4 linked regions of the Homo sapiens genome follow. Each later gene encodes a partner of the first gene's protein in a complex. Each region holds a gene or a part of one and is shown on either strand. Other genes may lie near its edges. The genes, in order: EXOSC1, EXOSC7, EXOSC9 and EXOSC6.

Region 1 (9,351 bases):
TTCACTTTTCTACGGACTGACCAGTGCCAATGTTCCAACCAGATTAAGGGAGTAAAACTGATGGTTCTGAGCCTGCAGAAATTGTACTTAAATTACACCACATGGTTGCATAGCAAATCCAAGGTGATGCACACCTAAAGCAACAGGCCACAGGAAAGGGGTGAGAAAGGCCACTCCAAATCAAAGCAGTCTTAGGAGTTGTCTGTGTAGACAGACTTTTGGGTGGAGTGTGGCCAACATGGACAAAGCTGTCCACTGTGTCTCTGGGCATGGCCACTGTAGCAGAGATTGCCAGGGCTTCCTGACTGCCCTAGTGCATCAACCTACCTTCAGATGATTATTCCTCACCAAAGAACAGCCAATGGAAGAATGAGTACACAGAATGTGGATCCTGTACCGAGGTATTTCCTGGTGCTATTTAAGTCTTGGCAAAAGATACTCTTCTTCCTACTCCCTCTGGGCTGATGTCACAGGCTAGCCAACTCAACCTGGTAGCAGGAGATTCCCTGTCTCCTGTCAGGACAGCCAGCTACCCCTTGCATGACAGAAAATGCTTTGTCTCCAATTCCATTCCCAGCCCCACCCCAAGGAAATGGTAGCCAAGACAACTCCAGGTATTCTGAGCAGAACACAGGAAGGAGTCAATGGGAGGGGACCTCCATGTTGATTCATGAAGGCCTCGGGTCCTGACCTCTCTGATGGACTCCACTGCCCCAGTCTAATTAGACATTTAAGAACCTTCTCTGCAGCTGCTGCCTTAGCCCCAAGATACCCAACCAGACTTCCCAGTTCACTGCTTCTATGGCACCTCTGCCAGTGCCTCCATCTCCTCTATGCAGTTTCTACCTCATGCAACAGCCATGGGAAGAGATCGGCTGCCTGGGCAATGACCAGAACAGAAGACACAGATGCGCTAACAGATTCCTTCGATGACAGTTTCATCAGTTCTGCAGATTAAAGACTTTCACCAGAAAAAAAAATTACCTGATTTTGCCCTGAGGCAGCCAGGGAGGGCTTTGTCCTTGACAATCCCACTGACTTATTTAACAGGTAGCTCAAAACCCAACAGAAACTGGAGGAGGCTGCTCCACTGCAGGGATGGTTTCAATTCGGTAACTGGAGTATTGTACTCTCCTTGCACCCTGGCTCATCCCCACAAAAGACCTTTCAAAGAAAACACTTAATTACCTCCTTGCACAAGCCCTGTAAGCCCTAAGGTGAAAAGAAACTCAGCAGACAAGGTCCACAGAGAAGGAGAAGGCACAATTCAGTAGGGACCTACGCTCAGCACCAGGATAAAGAAACTGTCCATTCCTGCCACCTCCTAGGAAGCTAAAAGAATTAAGGGGAGGCCGGGCACGGTGGCTCACGCCTGTAATCCCAGCACTTTGGGAGGCCGAGGCGGGTGGATCATGAGGTCAGGAGATCGAGACCATCCTGGCTAACAAGGTGAAACCCCGTCTCTACTAAAAATACAAAAAATTAGCCGGGCGCGGTGGCGGGCGCCTGTAGTCCCAGCTACTCGGGAGGCTGAGGCAGGAGAATGGCGTGAACCCGGGAAGCGGAGCTTGCAGTGAGCCGAGATTGCGCCACTGCAGTCCGCAGTCCGGCCTGGGCGACAGAGCGAGACTCCGTCTCAAAAAAAAAAAAAAAAAAAAAGAATTAAGGGGAGTGTAGAAAAGAGAAAAAAAGGCCGGGCGCAGTGGCTCACGCCTGTACTCCCAACACTTTGGGAAGCCGAGGCAGGCGGATCACTTGAGGTCAGGAGTTTGAGACCAGCCTGGCCAACGTGGTGAAACACTGTCTCTACTGGAAATGCAAAAAAATAGCTGGGCATGGTGGCGCGTGCCTGTAATCCCTGCTACTTGGGAGCCTGAGGCAGGAGAATCGCTGAAACCCGGGAGGTGGAGGTTGCAGTGAGCCAAGATCGCGCCAGTGCACTCCAGCCTGGGAGACAGAGTGAGACTCCACCTCAAAAAAAATTAAAAGCTCACGCTCAAACTTCCACCCCTATTGTTTGGAAGCATGATTTGGCTTGTAGCATGAATTTTTAAAATAGTAGACACCCACAATCAAATGTAAGAGTGGGACAAAACAGATTACCCCACAACAAATCTAGGTGGCTTTTGGACTGTCCACACTGCTGTTCATTCCCTTTCTATAGGTCATGGAGAGTTTCCTATTTGCCAAAATACTTTTTGTAGCAATGGCATGCAAATCCAATGCACTCCTTGTTTGTAATAAACTCGAATTATATACTACCTCACACCTCTTCTAGTCTTAAAAAAAAAAAAAACTTCTATTCTCCACTTTTCAGATCATTCTTAAACATGTCCTAAATTCTTCAGCGCTGCAGGAAATGTCTGCCTCAAAGACCAGATTTACCCAATTCTTTAGGGTTCAATTCTGTCCCTAAGCAGTTCCGTAACCTCAGACAAATCATTCAACTCTACTGGGACTCAATCTCCTTGTGTTCACATTCAGTGAGGGAGTAGGATTAAATGCTAAGGTCCCTTCCAGCTCTAACCTTTTATGATTCTGTAACTATACAGATACAGTCAACCCCCATATCTGCGGAGGGATTGGTTCCAGTCCTCCCTTCAGATACCAAAATCCATGGATGCTCAAATCTGATATAAAATGGCATAGTGTTTGCATATAACCTATACGTATCTTCCCATATACTTTAAATCATTTCTAGATTACTCATAATACCTAATACAAAGTAAATGCTACACATAAACACTTTTTTTGTTTGTTTTTGAGATGAAGTCTCGCTCTGTTGCCCAGGCTGTAGTGCAGTGGCAAGATCTCGGCTCACTGCAACCTCCGCCTTCTGGGTTCAAGCAATTCTCCCTGCCTCAGCCTCCCAAGTAGCTGGGATTACAGGCACCTGCCACCTCGCCCAGCAAATGTTTGTATTTTTAGTAGAGACGGGGTTTCGCAATGTTGGCCAGGCTGGTCTTGAACTCCTGACCTCAGGTGATCTGTCTGCCTTGGCCTCCCAAAGTGCTGGGATTACAGGTGTGAGCGAACCACCATGCCCAGCTGCCCCCAAATATTTCCAATCCATGGTTGGATTGGATCAGCAATGTGAAACCCACAGGTATGAAGAGCAAACTTCTTTGGTAAGTGTAAATGAAATGTTTATAAAGCACTTAGCACAATACCCGGCTCATGGAAGTACTCAATAAATATTTGTTGAATGAATGACCTGGAGGGATGCAGAAGTGGAAAGCCTGGCCAGATGTCTATCTGTCCTACAAATACCAGCAAGGACACTCCTGCCAATGTGGTAACACTAAATAAGTGTCTGCTGTTATCATTCTTCCTGATTCATAAAGAGAGAAATACAAACTGTTATTAAAATCATGGCACTTAGGAGCTAGAAGTCGTTTTTGAAAACAAGCCCAACCAGAAATCAGCCCAACCGTGTAAACAGAAAGCTCCTAGACGCACAGATACAGATTTGGGTGAACAAAGTCTGAGGCTAGGGCCTCTCTCCATTAGCTAATGGGGTATGGGATGCCAGGAAAATTACATATGTAGTAAGTGGGCCGCAACTGAACACACAGACTTTTCTTTTTTTTTTTTTTTGAGATGGAGTTTCACTCTTGTTGCCCAGGCTGGAGTGCAATGGCACAATCTGGGCTCACCACAACCTCCGCCTCCTGGGTTCAAGCAATTCTCCTGCCTCAGCCTCCTGAGTGGCTGGGATTCCAGGCATGTGCCACCACGCCTGGCTAATTTTGTATTTTTTTAGTAGAGACCGGGTTTCTCCATGTTGGTCAGGCTGGTCTCAAACTCCCGACCTCAGGTGATGTGCTTGCCTCAGCCTCCCAAAGTGCTGGGATTGCAGGCGTGAGCCACCGCACCTGGCCCAGACTTTTCATCTCAAGAAATAGAAGTAAAGCAAAATTCAAAAAGATGTGTGTAGGGGAGAAGGGGCTAATCTCAGTGAACGGGAGGAAACAGAGCAAAGCGCAGCTTTACTACCACCCCAAGCACAAGCCCGAGTACTCTGATCCTTCAGTAATAGTCACAGGCCATACTGGTCATCTGCCACCAGACTGGAGGAGATTGCTGGCCACAACACTCCCCTCTTCCCATGGCTTTAAGTCACATCTGTTTCCCAATGGGAAAGTCGACTGAGGGGACAGGGAAGGACAGACGGCAAAGCCATCAGAAGTCAGGTGAACTGAGATCAAAGTCGTGGCGAATGTCATCTGGACAAAGACGCTGCTCTCAGGATGTTTGCAATCTCAAGTAGGAGATACCCAACATCAATAAAGAGTAGCATTTTATTCATGTGCAGACCTCCCTTCTGGGCTAACACGCTGAGAAGAAAAAGAGTAACAACTTTATTTTGGGGCTGCTTATCTTTTGATGACGGGCCCACACAACCAGAGTTCGGCTTTTTCAACCAGAGAAAGCTTACTGAAGTGGGGATGAGGGGCCGCGAAGAGGATCGGACCGCAGGACTGGAAGCTGCAGTTTAAAAAACCGGGAAAAGGCCGGAGGCAGTGGCTCATGCCTGTACTCCCTGCACTTTGGAAGGCCGAGGCGGGCGGATCAAGAGATCAAGACCATCCTGGCTAACATGGTGAAACCCCGTCACTACTAAAACTACAAAAATTAGCTGGGCGTGGTGGCGCGCGCCTGTAAGTCCCAGCTGCGCGGGAGGCTGAGGCAGGAGAATCGCTTGATGCCGGGAGGCGGAGGTTGCAGTGAACAGAGATCGCTCCACTGCACTCCAGCCTGGCGACAGAGCGAGACTCCTCAAAAACAAAACAAAAAAACCGGGAAAAGGTTTTATTTCTCAATGACAGCCGCGAGGTGAAACTGCGATGGACTGGAAGTCAAAAACCGTGGGTTCCAGTTTGGGCTCTATCTTAACTATCTTGATCATTTTGGACAAGTCAAACCCTGTCTCTGAATCTGAGGTTCCATATCTGTGAAACAGACGAGTTGGGTCGCTTGACCTCCTTCCCTCCTGCTCTGAGCGTAACGATTGCTCGGAAGGTGCGCTCGGGCTGAGGAGGGCACGGCCCCGCAGGGCGGGGCGAGGAGAGAGCAGGAACCCGCACTCAAGACAAGGCCCCAGGGCAGTGCCCTACCCAGAAAAAGGGACTAGGATGGGGAGCAAGGGCCGAGGCTTCGCCCTTACCTGCCGCCTGCCGACTCCCCAGTCAGCCAAACCGAGCCCCGTAGCCTCTGCCGCCGCTCACTGCCACCCCCTCCGACTCGGCGCCCCGGCCGGGCCCGGCTCAATCCAAACCACCATGGCCCGCCGCCCGCAGCGCCAGGCAGCGGACCCGGACCCGCCGCCAGCCCATCCTCAACCACACGCGCAGGCGCCAGCGTGGACCTCTGAAGTTCCGCCCCCGGATTTGTCCCGGGGTAACCTGGGAAATGGAGTTTACTCGCAAGGATAAAGAGTACCAATTGACACGTGTCTTACTGCGGAACTGTGCCTGGGTTTGGCCAATGAGAAATCGACTTCGTTTTCATCCTGGTTTTGGGACAGCGGCAATCATGGCGCCACCTGTGAGATACTGCATCCCCGGTAAGTGAGCGCTTCCCGTACAGAGTCCTGGATAGGGGCTGAAGCAAGAAGGCTAAACGGCCTACAGCTTCTGGGGGCCCGTGACCGATGCAGCATTTTTTCTGCAGGCGAACGTCTGTGTAACTTGGAGGAGGGCAGCCCGGGCAGCGGCACCTACACCCGCCACGGCTACATCTTTTCGTCGCTTGCCGGCTGTCTGATGAAGAGCAGCGAGAATGGCGCGGTAAAGGAAGCGGCATGCCATCTCCCCTCTGTTTTTCCCTTAGGCTGCCCTTGAGTTCCAGTCCTTAGGCATGGGCACTGCGGACGCGTCTTTAGTGCCTCAGTGGTACAATGTTGGTCTCTTAGTTTCTTCTAGCCGTATCGCCGCTGTGGTGCACTTAGCCACCACACACTAGTTGTGTTGATCTCGCTTGGTTGTGCTGCTGACCCTCGGGGAGGGAAGTTGGGACAAAAGCAGATGCGAACTCAGTATCCCATCCCAGCCCAGCTCAGCCCAGCAGTGAGTTGCATACTGTATGAATGTTGCTTACCTTTCCGACTTTATCTAGCGCCACTATCTCCACCTCACTGACGCAATCTAGTCATACTGTCTTTTCTGTGTTTAAAAGTTATAATCACAGTCTCTGCTTGCCCTTTAAAAATTTTTTATAACATACTAGCTTCTTTCAGTGTCGGTAATGCGCCAAGCTTTCTCCTGCTACAGAGCCTTTGTAACATGCCATCTATCTGGAACGCTTCTATCTTCCTAGGCCTATTTAATTCCTACCTCCTTTAGATAGCTTCTCTACTATCACCTCAGAGAAGTCCTTCTGGACCCACTAATTGAGGAAAGGAGTTTTGTGGGGTGTTTTGTTTTTGTTTGTTTTGTTAAAGACTCACAAAAAACTCTGTTCCTTTTCTTCCAAGCACTATGTCAGCATATGATGAGACACTCAGGTATATGTTTCCTACTAGACTTCTCCCCTGCTTAAATCTAAGTCCGTGAAAGCAGGCCCTACCACCATACCATCCGTATATAGCACAAGGCAGCTCCTCAATAAATGTTGAATGTGTGAGTAATACCTACCTTTCTAGTTTCAGAGATAGATCCAGGATTAGCTCAGGATCATATAAGCAATATTTGAAGGAGCACAATAGAAAGAGGATTCAGAATTAGAACAGTTACGTTCTGGCTAACTTGACTTTGATTCTGCTTTGAGTAAGTAACTTAAGCTGTCTGATTCAAGGGGCTTTCTATTCAGTCATTGTTGGGAATGTTCTTAACAGTCCTGAGTTTGTTCATTTCATAGATATCACTTGAGTATTTTCATGTGTCAGGCACAGCGCTGACTTGGTTTCTGCTATCAAAGGACACAGACACAAATTGTAAACAAATAAATGCTCAAATGAGCATATGGTTACATATGTGGTGGTGCTTTGAAAGAATATTACAGGGCACCTTGAGAACATGTAACAGGCAAACCCATCCTAGTCAGCAGAAGTGACATTTAAGCTGAATCATCTAAAGAGTAGGTAAGAGTCAGGTGGGTGGAGAGAGTGCAGCTCTGGCAGAAAGAATAGGTTGAAGAGAGATCTGAAAGTGGGAAGAATTTAGTAAGTTGGGGAAACTGAAAGAAGGCCAGGAGAGCTGAAGCATTGTGAGCAACGGAGAGATTGATAAAAGATGAGGCTCAAAATATCTGTCTTATACCAACAGCCAATACCATGCTCAAAGAGAAAACTCTGCAAGTATTCACTTAAAATAGAAGAAAACAAGCATAGCCGCTATTATGTAACATTTTTGTGGAAATTTCAGCCTGTGCAATAAAATAAGAAACAGAAGGAAGCAGTATAACTTTGGAGGAAAGAGTAAATTGTCGGCAGGGCGCAGTGGCTCACACCTGTAATCCCAGCACTTTGGGAAGCCAAGGCAGGTGGATCACCTGAGGTCAGGAGTTCGAGACCAGCCTGGCCAACATGGTGAAACCCCATCTCTACTAAAAATACAAAAAATTACCCGAGCATGGTGACAGGCTTCTGTAATCCCAGCTACTCGGGAGGCTGAGGCAGGAGAATCACTTGAACCCAGGAGGTGGAGGTTGCAGTGAACCAAGATGGCACCCTTGCACTCCATCCTAGGCAACAAGAGTGAAACTCCATTTCAAAAAAAAACAAAAAAAGTAAAATTGTCAATGATTATAGGCAATATAGTTGTATACCAAGAAATTCTGAGAGAATCACCAAAAAACTTATTAGAAGTTTAGAGATTTACTACAAAAAAAAGTAGCTGGGCATGGTGGCGGGTGCCTGTAGTCCCAGCTACTCGGGAGGCTGAGGCAGGAGAATGGCGTGAACCCGGGAAGTGGACCTTGCAGTGAGCCGAGATCGTGCCACTGCACTCCAGTCTAGGCGACAGAGCAAGACTCCGTCTCCAACAACAAAAAAAGAAGTTTAGAGATGTATGTCTTCTAGCAGCATTCTGTAGCCTCCTGGTCCTCCTATTTCCTAAAATTTCTAAGGCCTTCTGCTCTGGGCTATAAATGAATCCATACTCCAACTCTCACCTTTATACCAAGACATTCCTATATTACTCTCAAGCCACAAATGCCTTGACCCAAGGGTTAGTCAGGACATTTCAGTTTTTTGTTGTTCCCTCTGTAGCTTCCAGTGGTGTCTGTAGTGAGAGAAACAGAGTCCCAGTTACTGCCAGATGTGGGAGCTATTGTAACCTGTAAGGTAAGTTGGTCCTGACCTCCATGCTTAGAATGCCCATTCAATACTGAAATCATGACCATACCAGAACTGCAGTGTCCAGTATGATAGCCACAAGCTACATAAATTTATTTCTGGCAGGGCACAGTGGCTCACACTGGTAATTCTAGCACTTTAAGAGGCCGAGGCAGGAGGATTGCTTCAGCCCAGAGTTCAAGACCAGCCTGGGAAACATAGTGAAACCTCATCTCTACAAAAAGAATCAAAAATTGCCGGGCATGGTGGCTCATGCTTGTAATCCCAGCACTTTGGGAGGCCGAGGTGGGCAGATCACCTGTGGTCAGGAGTTCAAGACCAGCCTGGCCAATCATGGCCAACATGGTGAAACCCTGTCTCTACCAAAAATACAAAAATTAGCTTAGCGTGGTGGTGCATGCCTGTAATCCCAGCTACTCGGGAGGCTGAGGCAGGAGAAGTGCTTGAACCCAGGAGGTGGAGGTTGCAGTGAGCCTGCGTCACAGCAGTCCAGCCTGGGCAACAGAGTGAGACTCCGTCTCAAAAAAAAAGAAGAAGAAGAATAAAAAATTAGCCAGGCATGGTAGCACATGCTTGTGGTCCCAACTACTTGGGAGGCTGAAGCAGGAAGATCGCTTGGGCCCAGGGGGTTGAGGCTGCAGTGAGCCATGATCACTCCAGCTTGGGTAACAGGGCAAGACTCTGTCTCTCAAGAAAAAAATAAAATTGATTTCCTTAGTCACATTAGCCACATTTCAAGTACTCAATAGCCACTTGTGGCTAGTGGTTGCTATACTGGTCAGCACATGACTTTTCTGTCATCACAGAAAGTTTTACTGGACTGTGCAGGCTTACAGATTTCTAGGATAATAATCAAGGCAGCCAAGTTCAGGCATGCATAGTTCCTTCACTGAGCTGATTCCCTGAATACATAGTTCTACCTGTGTCTGGGAAACAGGGATGCCAGAGGATGATTAGGAGGCCTATTTTTGAACATCTGAAGCTGAGTTCTTTTTCTGCAGAGAAGCAAAAGACTTTATTTTTTGCCATTCCTGTTTTTTTTTTTTTGAGACAGG
Region 2 (8,351 bases), on another chromosome or scaffold:
TACCCCTCCCAGCTCTCCACCCCTTCTGACTCATCACCTCTACCCTCCTGCTTGGAACATCTCTGGTTTAACTGGGGTAGGCTGAGATCAAGGCCATGCCTACCTGGAAAGGGACTCTAGACACTGGGCCCACTGTTGCTTGCCTGGCAATCAATCTAGCCTACAAATCTATGAAGTCTTACGTCCAGGTCAGGCCAGGCCCACAGCAGAAAAAGTGATCTAGTGGGTACCTAGGCAGGGCTGACCTGGGCCTTACCCCTCCAGTAGTCATCTAGCCCCAACACAGGCCCTAAGGCTGATTCCTCTGAGTGTACATGTGCTCATGTCTGAGCCTGTAGAAGCCTCCCTGTAAATGGGTACCAGACCAATAGTAAGTATATTCTGAGGTTTTCATCACAAGCCTTTGTTTGAAGTGTCTGCGAGAGTTATCTCATCAGCTTGGGAGACTTTGATTACAATTAGCCTCAAAAGGCTTCTGCAGGTTGCCTCTCTGCTTTGTACCCACCCCCAGCCCCTCAGCCAGGAACAGTGTCCCCTTTAGCAGCACTAAGCAGGCAAGGAACCCAGATATAGTGACTCCAACCACCAATGCAGGCTTGAAGATTCTGGTTCAATTTTAGTGAAAAATACAAGTGTTCACATTGAAAAATAGTTAAGATCCCAAAGGGAAGTGACAAGTGCGGAGTATTCTGAAACATTTATGAATGAAAAATGTTCTCCTAAACTCCCCTAGTTAAAAACCCAAGCCTCTCTAAGAGGTTAAACCACAGTCCTAAACCCATCAACACAATGGTCGGAGAACTGAGAAGCAACTTGATGGCTCGCCGCCTAGTGGCAGCGCAGGGTGACACACCAGCTCACTAAAATCTTCCCTTCCTTTGGGCTTTAGATAGAAACCACCTTTTCCTAAAGTTTCCAAATTCTCATTTAAAATAGCCTACTCTCAGCTACAACCAGCAAACCAAAGACATGAAAAGGTCAGATTTTGCTCCCAGTTTAGTGACAGTGCTGCCAGGCATCTCTGGAACAGGGCTCAGGGTCAGTGCAGCAGTCTTTCCAAAGGGCTGTGAGGGCTATATCAAAGATTTTTCGTCATTCCCAAGAAACAGGGTAAATTATGGAGGTGGCGACAGTGTCTATCTTGGCTCCATGTATTATCATCCCAAGTAGACAAAACCAAGTGAAATGGGTTGGCAGAAAATCAATTAGTTTTCTGAGACCTCTCTACCCCTGGCAATTTAATTAAAACTGGAAGTTGCTAACAAGAAGTTAAATCAAACTAGACTCAGAGCAGCAGAAGAAACCCTCACCACCATCACCACCACCATCACCACCAATTTATTTCCTTCCACTGGGCAGCAACTATGTTTCAGCCTGTGGATAGGCAAATGCCTTGAGCTCTCCAGCAGAGGCCCTATGCCTGGAGTCCAGGTGGGAGTGGGTGTGTGGCACCCTTATTGCTGGGCACATCCACGGGTGTCCAGAAGCCATTCCTATTCACTGATTCAGAATAAAAGGACACACTTGTTTATGCAATTAAAATAATTATGCTCCTTGAAGACTCAATTGAGGTTCTGATACAGGTGGCAGCGATCAGTGCTTGGTAACCTCTCCCATCTCTGTAGGAAATGGGGTTTTGTGACTCTCTCATGGTGATTCTACTTGCCCGGCTGATTACATTAGCTGAGCCACTTAAAGAAGGTAAAGTGTGCCACTTTGAGACTGTCCATCTTGAGAAATCAATTCAGGAGAACTACCTAGATACTGGAGCTCTTGGGCCTGTGGGGATCCTTTTGAGACCCACAGAGGAGGAAAAGAGACCAGCAGGCAGCCACTCTAAGCCAGGAAAGATAGGCTACTTCTAGAAGCCAGATCTTGGGAAGAGGCAACTCAAAGAATCCTCTCACACTAGAGTCACTCATCCTTTACAGCTGGGACAAGAAAGGGATAAGAGCAGCAGGCTAACTTGGAGTCATATTTAGACACAGAGCCACAATGAAACGTATCCCCTATACCAAGCATCTGAGGGCAACACCCTCTCTTTGGTGTGGTTGGGCTGAATGTCTTTGGTCTGCCTAAAATGAATGAGGTAGAAGGTAATGAAGGAGATGAAAAAGAAAGCAAATTACAGTTCCTCACACATTGTCTGCTCCTCAGTGACTGCTTACTGCATTGAATTAGGCAGATCAAGGCCACCAGAGGCATTCTGCTTCCTCCAAGAACAAAGGAAAAGATAAGTTGGGGGCTTGAACAAGGTCACCATCATCCACAGTGACTTAAAGGATGGGCCAATTCCATGGGACAACTCAGGCTGGTGAGAGAAGATGAGCAGAACCAGGAGAGACGACTTGGGGGACCAGAGTAGGGGACAGGAATGGGCTGGAAAAAAAACTGACCAGAAAAATGAACATGGATAGTTCTTGGACTCCCCAAGAGCAGCCCTCCAAAGCTGGCTTCCATAGGCTGCATGAAGTAAAATGAGCAAAGATTCACAGGTTGGACAGACCTGAGCTGGCATTTTTAGCTTTGTAACCCTGGGGTAGTCACTTACTCTCTCTGAACTCATTTGTCATTTCTCTTATACGAGTACTATGAGAATCAGCTTCCGTGTATGGAAGTTCAGACTGGAAGACTGTAACTCACCCTACAAAAGTGGGTTAACATTTGTGCAAAAAAGGGCTGCCATTGCAGTCCAAAGGTGCTATTTTCAGAAGGGTCTGTTTGCAGGGTTGGCCCTTGGCTGGCATCCGGGAACCTGGCTCCCAGGCAATAGTAAACTGATGGGGGTAGTCCACTGTGCCTATATTGTGCAAATAATATGATTTATGCTGAACATTTGCTTTCCTTTAGAAAACTTCATTATGTATTAAGCATCGAGTGTCTATGTGACCAGCTCCCAGTAAAAATCTTGGGTGCTGAGTCTCTAATGGGCTTTCCTGGGCAGAAATGTCACAAATAAGTTACTGCATTTTCACTGCTGTAATAAACCTTAGCTGTGAGTATCACTATATGCTAAGTCTAGCAAATCTCTGAATGTGGAGGTGGTCTTGGGGATCTTGATACAGGGTCAACATTATATACCTACACCCAGCATGAGCCCACAGAGATCCTTACCCACTTCAAGAAGGCCTGGCTTCCAGAAGCAAAGTAATTGATAGAAGACGGGACCTGGCCAGCAACCAAATAAAAAGCCCCGACCCCTAGAATGTGGAGCTAATAATACTTATTGAACTTATTGACAAAATAAGGAGAAATAACACTTATTGAAAGCCCACTGGAAGTCAGTCACTGTGCTAGGTACTCACTCTATTCATTTCCTCTTCATCACCATGGTATTATTTATTATCCTCATTTTTTAGATGAAGAAATTTGGCCACAGTGAGACTGAGTAACCAGCCTGAGATCACAAAGCTGGCCAGAGAAGGAAGTGACATTCTGGCCCAAGGCTGGCTGCAGACACTGCAGAGCCCTCTCTCTTCTCAGCACCCATACTGCCTGCCTAGCTGCCACTTCCTCAGCCTGTCAGGCTGCTTGGCTGACCCTAGGCTTCATCTGTCAAGCAAATCATGAACAGTTTTCTGCAGAACTAGAGTAGGAAGAGAAACAGCACATTTTAGACCAAATGATCCTTACTGTGTATATTTTTCAAAGCACCATAACACAATCATTTCATTTGACCCTCATCACAATCATGTGCTAGGCTGCCTGGCAAATGTCCTCCTTTATCGGACAGGGAAAACAAGGCCAGCAATAGCCAGGTGGTTAAGACTAGGGCAGGACTCAAGCCAAGAGTCCTGACTATGTACCTGGCACATAGGAGGAGGTCAGCAAATGCCTGCTGGATGGCTGAATGATAAGTATAAAAGTGGGTTCAACAGCAAACCAGAGGTTCATTTTCTGAATCTTCATCTTTAAAATCATTTATCTTTAGAAATATCTGCATAGACAGTACTGACCAGTCAACAAAGAACTCCAAGTAGCCTTCATTTGGTTTCTCCAGCTTCGGCGTCCCCATTTCTGCTTTCACTCCCACCAAGATGTCTGTGTGACCCTGCAGACACATGCAAGAAGAGTCCTCACTCAGAGTATGCAGCCAGGTACTCCACCACCTCCCTCCTCTTCTGGACATACACCCCTGGGGGACTCTTTTAGGAGCAGTGCTAAGACTTGGAAAGTGGTCTTTGGAGGAGGTGAGCAGTCTTTTCAGATCTGGATAGACCCCCCCTCCCTGAGTTTGGCTCGGATCTTCGATTTCCCCAAGAGCAATTTGCATTCCAAAAGCCAGACAGCGTCAGCAGCTCATTCCTTAGGGCCTACTCATTTCTCCACCTGGGCTTGAACCATGGTCACAGTACTCACCAGCTTGACCCTGGCGGACCCACTAGTGTTGGACACCACATCAGTTTCCACTTCGACACATCGGTAGTCCTCACAGCCACGGCCATCCACACGGAGGTCTTCCTAGGTGTTAACAACCACAGTCCTATAGTCACCCCAGATCAACAATAACTCCTAAACGGACTCACCCATTTTCCCCCTAGAGAAGATATATGCAGAATATCTCTTTTCCTCTTAGTGGATCATCTAAAATTCTGTCCTTGTAGCTAACAACAACATTACTATTTTACATATGAGGAAATGGAGACTCAGAGAAGTTGAGCGACTTGTCCAAGGTCCTACAGCTAGTGAAAACAAAGCTAGTTTTCCATGCCAGTTGTGTCTGATTGCAAAATCTATACTACATACCACTATATAGAATATGCACACAAAAACAAGATCTGAACAAGAGACAAAATAAGCCACCTCTCTCTAAATCTGCAATTCTTAAATTGCACCAAGAAGTATATGTTGTCAGAGCTACAGAGTACAATCATCTCAACTGAAGCCCTCCTACCCCTAAAACTCAACAAGATCTACTGTGTAAATAGTGAAAGACACCTAATCTTCTAAAGAGGCAGTCTCTAGAACAGGGTCAACAAACTAAGGTCCCTTGTTTTTGTAAATAAGTTTTACTGGAACATAGCCATGCCCACTTGTTTAGGTAATGTCTATGATTGTTTCTGCACTACAAAAGCAGAGCTGAGTGGTTGGGCCAGAGATATGACCCATAAGGCCCCAAATCTTTACTATCCAGTCCTTTACAGGAAGTTTGCTGACTCTTTTGGCAGAAGATGGTTTTCAGGGTGGTCTACGCGCTGCCTGTTCCTTCTGCCCATTTATTTACTCCTTCAATTACTTGTATCAGTACAACTCATTGGTATCTTTTATGCTATGGTTATAATCCACTACTATCATTAGTTATTTTGCTGCTCAAAGTGTTCCAAATTTGGCCACTGGGGGCTTCTTTGGGTTAGTTTTTGTGCTCTTTCAACATGCCTCCAACTTTTTGAGTAATTATCTACTTTCTGCAACACAAGATATCTATCCTCTTGTGTCTTCTCTGCCCAGCCCTAGGGATCAAGCCTTTCTCCAAGGAGCCCTGGTTGCTTTTATTGGGGAATGGTACTTAAAACCAGGAACTAGGCTCTAAGTTCATTGCTGTTGGAGTATTATTTCTTCCAGAACTTCTCAGCAGACAGAGCTAGAAAATACAGTTATGTATACTAACCACCCCCACCACACACACACAAATCTGTTTAATTCTGTATCTATCTACATATCTATTAAAAAGCCAAGAGTTCATACTGATAGATCAATTCCAATCTAACATCACATGGTTCATTCTAACCTTCCTCTGTTTCTTATTTGTAACTTCTTTCTCAAAGAAGGAGAAAGCTGGCTCTTATTATCTAACATGTATTTCTGTATTTGTTCAATCTTAGTATACACAGTTTCTGAACTTCTAACCCATACCCCTGTGAGAAACAAATTTACTAATAGCACACAGTATTTGTGTAAAGTTCTGTCTTTAGCCTCAGAGTATCCAGGCAAAATACTGTTTTCCAGTTACTTCAGTTCTTTTCTTCTACGTGCCCTTCAGTGTGGTTACATTACTCACTTGTAACACAGGCTCATTTGTAACTTGTAACTTTTTTTTTAGACTATGGCTCTGTCGCCCAGGCTGGAGTGCAGTGTGGCACAGCTCACTGCAACCTCCGCCACCTGCGTTCAAGCGCTTCTCCCGCCTCAGCCTCTGAAGTAGCTGGAATTACAGGCACATCACCATGCCTGGCTAATTTTCATTTGTAAATTTTTGTTTTCCATTTTGGGTTCCCCCACATCATGGTTACTTTTAATTACTTATTTACTTTCTGAGTTTGTGAGCTATCACTATAGTTCTGAGAGAAAACTCAGAAAAGTATGCTCAGAGAAATGTCACTCTCCTCCGTATTATGCTATTTTCATGCCCCTTTCTTCCCATTCACCCTAGGTTTCTCTTCAGTTTCAGGTTTATCTTTCTTGTATTTTCTCTGCACAAATAAGCAAATACATGAATTTTTTAATATCTCCTTGTTTCTTATATGAAGGGTGGAATACTATAGATACTCTTACTTTTTTTTTTTTTTTTAACACTTAACTATATATATGCAGGAAATCATTCCACGTTGGCTCATGGAGCTCCTTCTCATTCTTTGTAAACATTTTTCAAAAGCAGTTTTTTTCAGAAAAAGAATCATTAGCTTAATCAGATTCTCCAAGGAGTTGATGCTTCCCAGAAACATAAAAAATAAAATAAAACACTGCTCTAAAGTATGTGACTGACAGTTTATCTTTAAACTGCCTGGCTAACTGCATATGTGACTGACTTTTTTGAGAAATTAAACAGAAAAAAGCAAAACACTGCAGCACCACACAGTACCAATGATCACCCTCTGCCATACTTGCTTCAGGTCTTTCACCCGTTTAACTTTTCAATGACAGAAAATAAACATCACAAATCAGGTGGAAGGTCCTGTGCAGCCCATCCTTCCCCCAGCACCTTTCCTCCCTGGAAGATATTGAGAGGTGACAGCGTGCTGGCAGCCCTCACAGCCCTCGCTTGCTCTCGGCACCTCCTCTGCCTGGGCTCCCACTTTGGCAGCACTTGAGGAGCCCTTCAGCCCGCCGCTGCACTGCGGGAGCCCCTTTCTGGGCTGGCCAAGGTGGGAGCCGGCTCCCTCAGCTTGCTGGGAGGTGTGGAGGGAGAGGCGTGGGTGGGAACCAGGGCTGCGGGCAGTGCTTGCGGGCCAGCGCGAGTTCTGGGTGGGCATGGGCTCAGCGGGTGGGTGTGGGCTAGGCGGGCCCCATACTCTGGAGCAGCCAGCTGGCCCCAGGCAGTGAGGGGCTTAGCACCTGGGCCAGCAGCTGCTGTGCTCAATTTCTTGCTGGGCCTTAGCTGCCTTCCCACGGGGCAGGGCTCCGGATCTGCAGCCTGCCATGCGGGAGCCTCCCCGCCCTCCCACCCCCACCCATGGGTGCTCCTGTGTGGCCCCAACCTCCCCAAGGAGCGCTGCCCCCTGCTCCACGGCGCCCAGTCCCATCGACCACCCAAGGGCTGAGGAATGCGGGTGCATGGCAGGGGACTGGCAGGCAGCTCCACCTGCGGCCCCAGTGCAGGATCCACTGGTTGAAGCCAGCCGGGCTCCTGAGTCTGATGGGGACTTGGAGAACCTCTATGTCTAGCTAAGAGATTGTAAATACACCAATCAGCACTCTGTATCTAGCTACTCTGGTGGGGACTTGGAGAACCTTTGTGTCTACACTCTGTATCTAGCTAATCTACTGGGGAGGTGGAGAACCTTTGTGTCTAGCTCAGGGATTGTAAACGCACCAATCAGCACCCTGTCTAACAGACCACTCGGCTCTCTGTAAAATGGACCAATCAGCAGAATGTGGGTGGGGCCAGATAAGAGAATAAAAGCAAGCTGCCAGAGCCAGCAGTGGCAACCCGCTTGGGTCCCCTTCCACACTGTGGAAGCTTTGTTCTTTCGCTCTTTGCAATAAATCTTGCTACTGCTCACTCTTTGGGTCCACACTGCCTTTATGAGCTGTAACACTCACCGCGAAGGTCTGCAGCTTCACTCCTGAAGCCAGCGAGACCACGAACCCACCTCGGGAGGAATGAACAACTCCAGGTGTGCCGCCTTAAGAGCTGTAACACTCACCATGAAGGTCTGCAGCTTCACTCCTGAGCCAGCGAGACCACGAACCCACCAGAAGGAAGAAACTCCGAGCACATCTGAACATCAGAAGGAACAACTCCGGACACGCCGCCTTTAAGAACTGTAACACTCACCGCGAGGGTCTGCAGCTTCATTCTTGAAATCAGTGAGACCAAGAACCCACCAATTCCAGACACAATATCCCTATCTTGAGTCTGGAGATGGATTCAAAAAGCAACAGAATTTCAAGTCTAAGAGAGTAAGCCTTTA
Region 3 (8,760 bases), on another chromosome or scaffold:
CAAACTCTAGGCCAGGCACAGTGGCTTACACCTGTAATCCCAGCACTTTGGGAGGTCAAGGTGGCAGAACTGCTTTAGCCTAGGAGTTCGAGACCAGCCTGAGCAACACAGCAAGACCCTATCTCTACAAAAAAAAAAAAAAAAAAGTTTTTTAGTTAGCTGGGTGGAGTGGCACGCGCCTATAGTCCTAGCTATTCGGGAGGCTAAGGAGAGAGGATCTCTTGAGCCCAGGAGTTTAAGATTACAGTGAGCTATAATGACACCACTGTACTCCGGCCTGGACGAGAGTGTCACCCTGTCCCTCAGAGAAAATAATGAAAGTTTTCAAAAATTAAAAAAAATTAAACTTTTAGGTTTTGTGATATTTTTAATAACCTTACAAGTAATGCAAATAGGAAGTATTATGCTTAGGTATGGAATATGGGAAGCTAAATGACTTCTCTGGGATGAAAATGCTTGTCAAAATACCCTAATCAAGAATCAAATTCTGGCCAGGCACAGTAGCTCACGCCTGTAATCCCAGCACTTTGGGAGGCCAAGGCAGGTGAATCACTTGAGGTCTGGAGTTCAAGACTAGCCTGCTGGTGAAACCCCATCTCTACTAAAAATACAAAAATTAGCCGGGCGTGGTGGCAGGCGCCGGTAGTTCCAGCTGCTCGGAAAGCTGAGTGGGAGAATCGCTTGAACAGGGGAGGCAGAGGTTGCAGTGAGCTGAGATTGCACCACTGCACTCCAGCCTGGGCAACAGAGTGAGACTCTATCTCAAAAAAATAAAACAAAATAAAATAAAATAAAATTCTAATATCCTAATGCAGCACAATTTATTGGGACTAAGATTTTCAAAGTTATCCCTGCCACTGACATGGTGTGGCCCTGTGTAAATCGATAAACCTATCCAAATGAAGGATTTCATCTGTTCTTGAGTTCTGCATGAAAAAGGAAAACTACCTGCTTCTATGAACTCATGTAGAAAATGAGAGATTATATGAAAAAGCCACAAGTTCTTTGAATAAAATATTTTTACACAAAAATCTAAGTTGCTATTTTCACCCTTTTAAGATAAAGGGTGAAAACCTTTTAGAAACCTTTAAGAAAAAGGGTGTCCTCTGAAGGGACACCCTTTTTGTCCCTTCAGAGAGAGAGAGGTAGCACAAAGTTCTAAGGGTATCACTCAAGAACATCTGAAGTGAAGCAAACCAGTACAATACTGAGTTAACTAAAGTTCTGAGAATAAAAGGATAGATACCGGGATCCATGATCAACAGTATTCATCCTAAGATTAAGAATTATGGGCATATTCCCCACCTTTTCACCAGCAACAACACAGAGAGACTCAGTGTCTATACACTTCGAATTTCTTAGACATCTTTCCATGAGTCGATTCAACTTCACCAAGAGATCTGACTGCCTATAAGGAGAAAATAGGAATGGGCTAATGTCATGAAATATAACACCAGGTATTAAAACAAAAGCTCACTGCTGTTAGGTTCTCCTATGACTAAAGCAACTTAAGAAAAAGATTTAAATACCTGCCAGGTTCGAAAGCTGGAGCGGCCATCTGAGAGAGTTCAAGGTTAAAAAAAAGAATACCTTCTGTTGCCCGATTGAGTTTTGGAGACACAAGTTCACAGGAAACCTGTCCAAGAACTCTGCAAAGATAAAGTTACAAAGTATTAACCAAATAGACTCTCCTTCCAAAACAAAAAACTGAAACAGATAACAAGTTTCAATCTTAATGTGAGTAATATCATACTCAGCCAAATAAATCATAGGAGATAAAAATTATATGTAAAGTATAATATACACAGAAATAAAACATAAATTGGTACAACTAAAAACACGACAGAAAAAACACCTCTCTTCTTATTACAATGTTTACTATTCCACAGATTGTTTTAAAAATCAGTGACCTTTACCTCTAAAGCAAGTATTTATTGATACAAGATGGCATGAAAACCTGAGATTTCTTAAAGGTTTTCACATGGCATAGTTCACCACCATTATGTGACCAAATAGCCTCACAACTTTCAAATGAATATCTGAAAACCTAATTTTCATGTCACTCAGGAAAAAGAAAGCAGGATGTACACTTAATGACAAGATGCTCAAGATCTCTATATTAGTGTGAGAAACAAATTCCATATGATCACTACTAGTTGTCTATACGATTTATAGAAGTCAGAAAAGAACTATGTGATACGTGACAGAAAATACGTTTATGATTAAAAAGTTCAAGTGTGACCACAAAAGCAAAAAATCTCGCATAAAAAAATACTTATTTTTGTCAGCTAAACAAAGAATACTGTCCAGACTTCTTAGCTGCTTTATAAACAACCAAGTCAATAAGGTCTTTTTTCAAACTTCTCCCTTCCGAATGTGTATCTCATTTAAATCCTGTTACCTTGTTTTTCCAAGTTCCACAATGCAGCATCCGTAATCTGTTCCAAATGAGATCCTGATGTTCCTATAATCATAGGTTTGTCTGCCATCCAGCCGCTGTAAGCACAAATTCATTCATTAATTTATTCCTTCAACAAGTATTTCTTAAGCAACTACTTTTTGTCTGGCCCTGGGCTAAGCACTTGGGGGAAAGTGGAATCCTAACCAGCCCGCCCATACAGGAAAGTGGAAACTACAGCATGGACAACTGCTGCGGTGACTGGAGCCTTGAAAAGAACCTGTCGAAAAAAAATAAATAAAGCCTGAGGGATGGGGTGAACGTGCCGGTCGTTCCCCTAGTAGCTCCCCGGGCCCAGGCGGGCCAGGTATCAGTCCACACCTTGAGACCCGAGCGCCCACGCAGCGCGCAATTCTGCGGGCACCAAACCATACCTTCTTCTCTTCGATGGCACGGAGTAGGAAGCGGCGTTCGCAGTTTGAGAGTGGCGTTTCCTTCATGGTGTTGGGTCACCGGCCCCACAGGCACCAGAATCCGCGGGAAAAACGGAACCCGATCTTTCCTTGCGCGCCGCTGCTCGCCCCGAGGCGCAGGAAAATTACGTCATCAAGGCGCGGCGGCGGAAAAATGGGAAATGGCTTGGGCTGCAGCTACTGCGCAGACTCAAAGCGTGATTGGGGAAGGCCAGCGAGCTGCGAGAAGCCATTGCGGCTTTGGGAGGCCGTTTCTGAACGTGAAGTTCCGTTTCTTTTCTCATAAAGTGCAGAGGAGAAAAGGATACTTAAAATAACCATGAGAGTGATAGAAATTATTATCAGTAGACCGCTCGCACACTTCACCCTTTGCTCAGTCCTCTCACGGGGTGGAGACTAGACATGTACTTCTGCAATTTCACAGATGAGTTGACATTGGTCCCTGGAAAGCCGCAGATGCAGGATTTGGAGCAGATTAAATGAACAAACACTGGAATGAGGCGGCATAAGGGTTGGGGGAGAAAGATAAATTGGTGAAATGGGATGTTTTTGTGGCCAAAGGTGAAATCTTGTGGGATCTGAGAAGTTGATGAGAATGGAGAATGTTCGCACGTAGTAACTAACGATGTTACTACTACTGTGGACTGAAAGTAAATGCACCGTTTATTTCTTATCCCCTCTCCAGTTATTTTAAGTCGATAGACTTTTTTTTACGGTCACAGAGAAGCCTTAGCGGGGCCATGCTGCCAACCACTCAGCTTTTTTGGAGAGGCAGTATCAAATAGTAGTTTTAAAAAGTGTTCACTGCCAGGGTTCAAATTTTAAGGCTATCATTAACTACTATAACCCTGGGCAAGTTAACCTGTGTGCTTCACATTACTCACCGGCAAAAAAAAAACAAAAACAAAAACAAAGCAGGGGAAGTGAGAAACCTATTTATTCTGAGGAATAAAAATGAGTTAATATATACATAAAATGTTTAGAACAGTGCCTGGCATGGAATAAGCACTATTTAAGTGTTTGCATATTATTATTTTGTTTCCTTTTGCTTTAGAGGTGGTAGGCACTGTAACTCCTACGCAGTCTTTCTCTGGCTTCTTTGGTAGCTTCTCACAAGTTTTTTCTACCAGTGATACATTTTAGTCTCACTTTGTACCACTTGCAATCCATGTACTCAATAAATACTTGAAGAGGGCCTACTCTGTCCAAGAATAATTTAAGTGCTGGAGAAACAGGGTAGACAAGATCCTTTCAAGGAATTTATATTCTTTTTGGAAAAGGCAAAAAACCCTAAACAAATAGAACAATTTCATACAGTGTTAAGTGCTCTCTGAGAATAGGAATGCTATCTTAATAGGGGTAGTTGCAGGAACAGGTGACTTTGTAGCGGTGACATTAAAGTAAAGTAAATCTTTGGTGTTGAGCAGGAGCACCCTTGATGCCATCTGGAGAGGAAAAGTGTTTCAAGCAGAAAGAGTAACATATGCAAAAACTGAGATGAGATGAGCTCCACATGGTCTGGAGAGAGAAATTGTGAAGAAGGAGGAAAGTGGACAGAAATGATTAATTTTCAAAATCGGCAAGGGGATTACAGGGTACTAACCACTTAAGTTCTTTAGCAACATGAATTCATTTTTATAGTACAGTTTCATACCAGAACTCCTGGTTGATAAGTTCTTCATTTAAATCCTTGAGTTCTTTCAGTGGCCATTTGGTAATTTTTCCCTTCAGCGATGAAATAGACCTTTGTTGAAATAGCCTGTTATTTACTGCAAGGCAGCTTGGTAATGGAAAGAGAATGGACTTTGGCTTCAGATAAAGTTCAGCTCAAATGAACTTGGAGTGAGCTAAATATTCTTTCTGATTTGGGGGTTCTGTATCTTCAGATTGGAAATAACAATTATTCTGTGTTAAGTGGTCTGAATGAAAGCATCTGATGAAACATTTTGGACATGATAGCTATTCAAATGTTAGTTTCCTCCTTTCTTGTTGGGTTGGCAAAGGCTTCCCATGAAACTGCCCAAACTCAGCATGACAGATTGCTTTTCTGAAACTGCTGCTTGATTACTTTGCTTTCCTTCCACTTTTGTTGAATTTCCACTGTTCTTTTCTACTTTCACTTTTATATTCTAATTTAAACACTCTTGCTTTTGTCTTTTTATTTTCGAGTTAATCCAAAGGTGTATGACCCATCTCCACTTACATCTACATACCATCCTAAAATATATGTACTTTACAACCTTGTGTTTATAAGAAATTTTTGAATGCCAAAGGAAAATTTGTTTCATGATTTCAGGGAAAAATAAGTTTGGAAGGTTAAGAAGAGGTTCAGATAATGTGTCAGGTAATGTGATACATTCTATTATTTTTTTTTTCTTTTTTGAGAGAGTCTCACTCTGTCACCCAGGCTGGAGTGCAGTGGCATGATCTTGGCTCACTGCAACCTCCACCTCCCAGGTTAAAGTAATTCTCCTGCCTCAGCCTCCCAAGTAGCTGGGACTACAGGCATGCACCACAACGCCTGGCTAATTTTTGTATTTTTAGTAGAGATGGGGTTTCACCATGTTGGTCCGGCTGGTTTCAAACTCCTGATTTCAGGTGATTCGCCCACCTTGGCCTCCCAAAGTGCTGGGATTACAGGAGTGAGCCACCGCACCTGGCCTCACCTTCTGTTCTTAAAAGAAGAATCAGTTGGAATCAGCATATTAATCTGGATGATCTGTCTAAAAATAACCTAGTTCTCAACAAACTATTTGAGTGTGCATTCTCTTTATTGAACATCAGTTGCTTTGTCTGACCAGCAGCCTTCTATTTCTTGGAGAAATGCCCTTTCCTGACCCCATGCGATTCTAGTGAGCCAATACATTTGAGTTGGTCTTTGTAAAAGTGTGTCCGAAGGAATTCTAGTACATTTCTACTAGAGTATAAAGTCTATGTCTTCTTCACCTTTGTAGCACCCACTGAGACTGGTAGTGTACCTTGTGAATCAAAGGATGAATGGCCTACTTAGCACATCTGGTGAAAGAATTAATGGGTGGAGGCCAGGTGCGGTGGCTCACGCCTGTAATCCCAGCACTTTAGGAGGCCAAAGCAGCCAGATCACTTGAGGTCAGGAGTTTGAGACCAGCCTGGCCAACATGGTGAAACCCCCGTCTCCACTAAAAATACAAAAATTAGCTGGGCATGGTGGCACACACCTGTAATCGCAGCTACTCAGGAGGCTGAGGCTGGAGAATCGCTTGAACCCAAAAGATGGAGGTTGCAGTGAACTGAGATTGTACCACTGCACTCCAGCCTGAACAATAGAGCAAGAATCCATCTCAAAAATAAAAAAAGGCTGGGCACAGTGGCTCATGCCTGTAATCTCAGTACTTTGGGAGGTCAAGGTGGGCAGATCACTTGAGTTCAGGAGTTCGAGACCAGCCTGACCAACATGGTGAAACCCTGTCTCTACTAAAAATACAAAAATTAGCCAGGCATGGTGGCCCACACCTGTAATCCCAGCTACTCGGGAGGCTGAGGCTGGAGAATCACTTGAACCTGGGAGGCAGAGGTTGCAGTGAGCTGAGATTGTGCCACTGCACTCCAGCCTGGATGACAGAGTGAGACTCCATCTCAAAAAAAAGAAAAAAATGGGTGGATGAGTGAACAAATGAAAGCTTACCATTTTATTTACCATATATCTGCTGTACAATTTGTCTGTATAGAATTTGGTGTACCAAAAGTTATCCTGGAAGGGTATAATATGAAATATTAAAAATGGTTATCTCTGAGTGATAGGATTTTGGGAAAAGGTTTTTATTTCATTTTGCTATTTTTTCTTTATGAACTTTCCAAATCTTCTGTAAGGCATGTGAATAGCTTTTATTATCAGAAAAAGTAAAAAGTAAAAAGGTGTTATGTTTTCTTTTTATTGTTTGGCCATACTTAGCTAATTTTTTTATTTAAGGGAATTTTGACTTTCAACTACATTTTAACAAAGACATTTGTTTTGTTTTTTTTCAAGATTCAAACGGGAAACCACTTATCAGTTAATATGTTGAAAAGATTTTATGTATTGACAACTGAATATGTCAAATATAGTGCAGGCCTGGCGCGGTGGCTCACGCCTGTAATCCTAGCACTTTGGGAGGCTGAGGCGAGTGGATCACAAGGTCAGGAGATTGAGACCATCCTGGCTAACATGGTGAAATCCCATCTCTACTAAAAATACGAAAAAAATTAGCCGGGCGTAGTGGCAGGTGCCTGTAGTCCCAGCTACTCAGGATGCTGAGGCAGGAGAATGGCGTGAACCCGGGAGGCGGAGCTTGCAGTGAGCCGAGATCGCGCCACTGCACTCCAGCCTCGGCTACAGAGTGAGACTTCGTCTCAAAAAAAAAAAATGTAGTGCAAATTTCCCTCGCATATGTTTTATGGGAATTATAGATTTTTAAGTCCATTAGATTATCCAGTCCATCTCTAGCTTCCTTGGATATTGAAAAGAGCTTTTCCTTTGACTCTGATTATATCATTTGTTATGTCCAGGAAGCTATATTATTATTATTAAGGCTTTACAATGTATTTAGAGGAATAAAAAATTATCCATTTTCAGCTTATCAAAAATACAACAAATTAGAAGATAATTCAGGGAAGGGACATTTTCATTTCACTTAGATTATGCATATGGCTCTATCTTGGACACATCACTGATGCCCTTGGATTTGTTCTCATCTATTAAAAGAAGATTCATGCTCATCGATAGAAATCTGTAGGAAATTATATTGTTTAATGTCTAAGCAATAAATATGATCTAGAAAAGTTGTCACTTAGTTTTCTACAAATAAAATAAGTGGAATTTGCTATTGTGAATTAAACTAATTGTCATGTAAATAACTTATAGTGTTGTATAGTAAGCAAAACAATGGCCTCTTTTAAAGATTTCCACATTCCAATCTCTGGAAACTGTGAATATGTTGCCTTATATGGCAAAAGTTATTTTGCAGCAGTGATTAAGTTATGGGTTTTCAAATGGGGAGGTTATCCTGGATTAGCTGGGTGAGCCCAAGAAGGAGGCAGGAGAGAGAGACCTGGAAATTTGCATTTTTAACTGGCTCTCTGGTGATGCTGATGCTGCTGGGCAGTGGATCACATTTAAAAGTGGCAAGAGTTTGGATAAAGATGATTTCTGTTCAGTAGACCTTTTGGAATTTATAAATAGGAAGAGTTTAGGATCAGTAATCTGGCCGAAAGGGACTGAAGAACTCAGAAGGCTGCATTTGCTTGGTAATCACACTGCGTTTACTTAGAATGAGAGTTTATTTGGATGGATTGAGGGTGATAGAGGTTATGAGAGAGGAACTAAACAGGCTAGCAAGCTGTGTTTTGTTTTTCTCTCAAAGAGTTTTAACAATATTTGAATCCTTTTGGCAGGGCATATGTTGAAGGCCAAAAGAATGAGGGTCATGATCAACTCAGCATACAACTGAAGGCTATATGAGTAAACAGCAAACTGTTTCTCATGAAAGCAGGATGTTGGCAAACTGACAAACTGCATCTGCCGCCCAGAAGGAATGCTGAGGGGAGTCACAACCCAGGCACAGGTGTTTCTTGTGGTTAGGCACATGTGAAGCCTGTTAGCAATAACGTGAACCTGTGATCAATCAAGCAGCTGACCAATTGTTACCTCCTTCTCCCTGCTCTTTCTACCCGATAAATACGAAGGGCTGCAGAAGCTCAGGGGCTGCTGCCTTTGCTCACTAGAAGCAAGGAGCCCTCTTCTTTTTCCCCTGGTCCCTTCCTTTAAAACAGTTTCTTTTGTTTTAAGTTTTCATTTCTGCATGCGTCCGTTTTCGTTCAGTCTCGTAATGACAGTCTCAAGTAGTGACAGTAGTAAGTCTTGTAATGACAGTC
Region 4 (4,155 bases), on another chromosome or scaffold:
CAGCATATGCTTCCATGTCTTCTAGAAAATGACCAAGAAGAGTCGTAGAAAATGCAAGATCAGCTACCCAAAATGGCTCCAAACTCTGCAACCACCCTTGGAATCGTATAAGAAATTGTGAAAGGGTGGGGGGAGAAAAAACACCAAAAAATCCAAATTAAAAAAATATAAGAGGCTTGTTTTAAAAAGTATCCGGTTTTCAAGCAGCATACCCTAAAACATGTCCTATATCATAAAATTAAGACTGCTAAACATGCTGATCACGATTAACCAATACCTCTTTAATTAATACCTCTTTAATTTCTGCAAAAATTAACATGTAAATGTTATTTCCTTACTTTTTCAGTAAATTTCCTATCTATATTGTCACTACACATGACTTAACACTAAAATGCCACAATCTACCATTGGCCTGGCTAATCCCAGGGCCACATCTAACCATTAAAGGTGTATACTTATCTCCTCAGTGAAAATGAAACAGACCACTATCACCTGAATATCCTATTTTCAAAAGTTTATTACACCAAGTAAGTTACGAGAAACTATGACACTTGAAACAAGCTGAAATGTGCAAATGAGCCATGCTAGTCATTCACTTAACTCCAAAAAAATGGGAAACAAAACCATTTCTCATTTATGACAATTCTCCAAATTAACCCTATTTCCTTTTTTAAAAAAATAACCAGAAAAACAATAAAATGTTACAAATAACTTGGATCTTCCATTGTCCACTTCAGGGTATTGCCACTGCAATATATTCTTACCATATACTTTTTCCTACCAGTACAAACTACAAATAACTTGGGTAAGTCCTGTCTGTACTTATTCTACCCACCTACTAGTAATTTCTTCTGAAAATATATATTTAGCTAACAAGTAATGTTCATTTACAATATAACATTTCTCTGAATTAGTTTTCTTGCATTATTAAAGAAATGTTATTGATAGATGGTCACTGGGGGACCACTGCTCCTCCCCGACAGTATTTAAATAACTGGTATAGGCTGCAAGACTTACCAGATACCTGCTGCGTGAGCGAAGGTTTCTGAGTATGATCTATATGCCATCCAACTAATATATCAACTGTATCCTTGATGGAAACAAAGAGAGAGGGGGCCAATCATTTTAAGATATTACTGCCATTCACCTGTGGACCATTCCACAGCAAAAGATCCTAAAAGGAGCATCTATGTTCTACCTACTCAACATTCTAGAAACTTAGAAAGGGGAGAGGGGCAGGAAAATAAAAGAACTACATTTCTGACAACAATGAAATAGTTTATTTTCTTCAAATATTTTAAGGTACGAACGTCAGAAATAAAAATGCAGCATTTAACCCTGGAACCTCAAATATCACTGATTATACTCAAAGGAGCAGAGGCATTGTTTTCCATCTGATTCCTCAGTTCCTCACACACACAACCATCCCCCTCACCCCATGATCTGAAAAGCGAAATGAGGAATTCACCCTAAAATTAGTGTGGAGAAAACAAGCAAATTAGGTTATTTACTAAGTGACTACATAAAAAACTGAGTATGAGACCAAGAAAAATAGATTCTGTAGTTTTAGTTAAAAAAAAAATTGACTTGTAAATCCCAACTACTCGGGAGGCTGAGACACAAGAATCGCTTGAACCCAGGAGGCAGAGGTTGCAGTGAGCTGAGATTGCACCGCTGCACTCCAGCCTGGACAATACAGCCAGACTCCATCTCAAAAAAAAAAATAATTAATAAATAAATAAAATAAATATACTGAAAATATTTCACTCCACTAAGATGTTAAGCTAAAAACAAATACTGTTTTCTCTTCTTCAATGTTTGTTAACATTAGTCCTTAATAACATCTGTTTACAATATCCCTAAATGCTCTCTTTAAGATTCCACCTGTGATTAAATTTCAAATACAAAAAAGTAAAACGGATTTGGGAAACTTTTCTATAAAGTACAGCAATTAATTTGCAATCCAAAATATAAAGCAAATTTTATATAATTTATGCTTTACTATATTAGTACTTGCTTCACATTAAAATTAAAGATCAGTATGGCACCACACATGAATAACATGCAGGCTCAGGTTACCATTATACATAAATTTTTAAAATAAATATATGGCAAAAATAATAATTGTCATTCCATTGAAAGAATATTTATTTTGCAGCTGTTAAAAGACATTTTTCCCTAAAAAAAGAAAAGCTGTGCTTTACATAGCAATCTTATAAAAGAAATGCTAGAATCAGAAAACCATCATTTTAGGCTGGGTGCAGTGGCTCACACCTGTAACCCCAGCACTTTGGGAGGACGAGGCAGGTGGATCACTTGAGGTCAGGAGTTCAAGACCAGTCTGGCCAGCTCGATGAAACTCCGTCTCTACTAAAAATATAAAAATTAGCAGAGCACAGTGGCACCTGCCTGTAATCCCAGCTACTCAGGAGGGTGAAGCATGAGAACTGCTTGAACCTGGGAGGCGGAGGTTGCAGTGAGCCGAGATTGTGCCACTGCCCTCCAGCTTGGACAATAGAGCAAGATTTCGTCTCAAAAAAAAAGAGAAAAAGAAAACCATTATTTTGCAATAGCCAATGTTATAATCTACACAGGCACAGACTATCAATGCTAAAAATCATTTAAAAGACATCTTAGGGGTAATTACAGAAATTTGAATATAGAACACATATGTAATAAAATTCATTTTCTTAGGTATGATTACAATATTCTTGTTATACAGAAGAAAAACCTTATTCTTGGGAGATGCAAACTAAAACATTATGGGTTGAACTGTCATCATGTGTATGGTTTTCAGATGCTCAACAAAAGTGTGTGAGAAAATAAAACTGGCAAAATATTAGTAACTGGTAAATCTAGGTGAAGCATATTATTATGAAATTATTATCGTATTTACAGGTATTTATTTTACTGGTGCATCTATCTTTCTATGAATGTGAGAATTTTCACAAGAGCTGGGAAAATGTTCATAATTATGCATGCAGAATAAGCCCAAGCTGGTGGCATTCTGTTCAGTTACAGGTAATTTTCTGAATCTTCCCTCAAATTTTTCTCAAACCTCTATAATCAAGGGGAAAAATGTTTTGTTTTGCTTTGCTTTTTTGAGATAGGGTTGCCTATAATGGAGTGCAGTAGCTTGACCATAGCTCACTGTAGCTTCAACCTCCCAGGCACAAGCGATCCTCCTGCCTCAGCCTTCAAGTAGCTGGGACTACAGGTGCATACCACCATGCCTGACTTATTTTTTTTCCTTTTTTTTTTTTTTTTTTTTTTTTGATAGAAACAGGGTTTCACCTTGTTGCCCAGGCTGGTCTCAAACTCCTGGACTCAGGCGATTCACCAGCCTCAGCCTCCCACAGTGCTGGGGTTACAGGAGTGAGCCACCATGCCCAGTTAAAAATACACTTTTTATTTAAAAAAAAAAGAGAACACTCCTTATATTTCCTTTATATTTTGTAAACTACATACCCAAAATAAAGCATATCAAAAACTGTAAAAAAAAAAAAAAAAAACCCTAATATCAGATATTCCAGACACAACAATACCATAATTTAATCACTTAAAATCTTACTCAAAACTAAATCAATGATCTTTTAGGCCAGGTGTGGTGGCTCATGATAGTAATCACAGTACTTTGGGAGGCCAAGGCAGGAGGATCACTTGAGGTCAGGAGTTCAAGACCAGCATGGCCAACACAATGAAAATCCATCTCTACTAAAAATACAAAAATTAGCCAGGCTAATGGCACACTCCTGTAATACCAGCTACTTAGGAGGCTGAGGCAGGAGAATCGCTTGAACCTGGGAGGCAGAGGTTGCAGTGAGCCGAGATCATGCCACTGCACTCCAGGCTGGACAACAGAGCAAGACTCCGCATCAAAAAAAAAAAAAAGATATTTTAATATATTCAGATACACAAATATGAAATAAAACTAAGTAGAGCTGGTATTCATTTACACATAATTATCTTATACCGTTTGGAATAAGAATTTGGGGCACGTTAGCAAACCAAAAGGCTCAGAAAGACGTCGTGATATTTAGTTCTTGTCTCCCTCTACAAATGTGAAGCACTCTTCTATCCGGCATTCCTAGTGGAGTTCCTATTTTCAAATTTGCAAATCATTCTGGTGCTAAGCAATCTCAAAAAAAACATTTA

What was found.
Region 2: EXOSC1 (region 1) and EXOSC7 share a complex: the UniProt entries of both Homo sapiens proteins name them as parts of the RNA exosome core complex.
Region 3: EXOSC1 (region 1) and EXOSC9 share a complex: the UniProt entries of both Homo sapiens proteins name them as parts of the RNA exosome core complex.
Region 4: EXOSC1 (region 1) and EXOSC6 share a complex: the UniProt entries of both Homo sapiens proteins name them as parts of the RNA exosome core complex.

What each region holds. Positions count from the first base shown.
Region 1 is NC_000010.11:97,442,170-97,451,520, reverse strand, and holds the start of EXOSC1 (exosome complex component CSL4), read left to right. Parts: upstream 1-5,514; 5' UTR 5,515-5,535; coding exon 5,536-5,566; intron 5,567-5,673; coding exon 5,674-5,789; exon of another isoform or gene 5,790-6,026; coding exon of another isoform or gene 6,027-6,068; intron 6,069-8,209; coding exon 8,210-8,284; intron 8,285-9,351. UniProt on the Homo sapiens protein: Non-catalytic component of the RNA exosome complex which has 3'->5' exoribonuclease activity and participates in a multitude of cellular RNA processing and degradation events.
Region 2 is NC_000003.12:44,985,250-44,993,600, reverse strand, and holds part of EXOSC7 (exosome complex component RRP42), read right to left. Parts: intron 4,462-8,351; coding exon 4,360-4,461; intron 4,052-4,359; coding exon 3,957-4,051; intron 1-3,956. UniProt on the Homo sapiens protein: Non-catalytic component of the RNA exosome complex which has 3'->5' exoribonuclease activity and participates in a multitude of cellular RNA processing and degradation events.
Region 3 is NC_000004.12:121,795,563-121,804,322, reverse strand, and holds the start of EXOSC9 (exosome complex component RRP45), read right to left. Parts: upstream 3,001-8,760; 5' UTR 2,899-3,000; coding exon 2,833-2,898; intron 2,497-2,832; coding exon 2,402-2,496; intron 1,650-2,401; coding exon 1,530-1,649; intron 1,409-1,529; coding exon 1,306-1,408; intron 1-1,305. UniProt on the Homo sapiens protein: Non-catalytic component of the RNA exosome complex which has 3'->5' exoribonuclease activity and participates in a multitude of cellular RNA processing and degradation events.
Region 4 is NC_000016.10:70,245,521-70,249,675, forward strand, and holds the end of EXOSC6 (exosome complex component MTR3), read right to left. Parts: 3' UTR 1,258-4,155; downstream 1-1,257. UniProt on the Homo sapiens protein: Non-catalytic component of the RNA exosome complex which has 3'->5' exoribonuclease activity and participates in a multitude of cellular RNA processing and degradation events.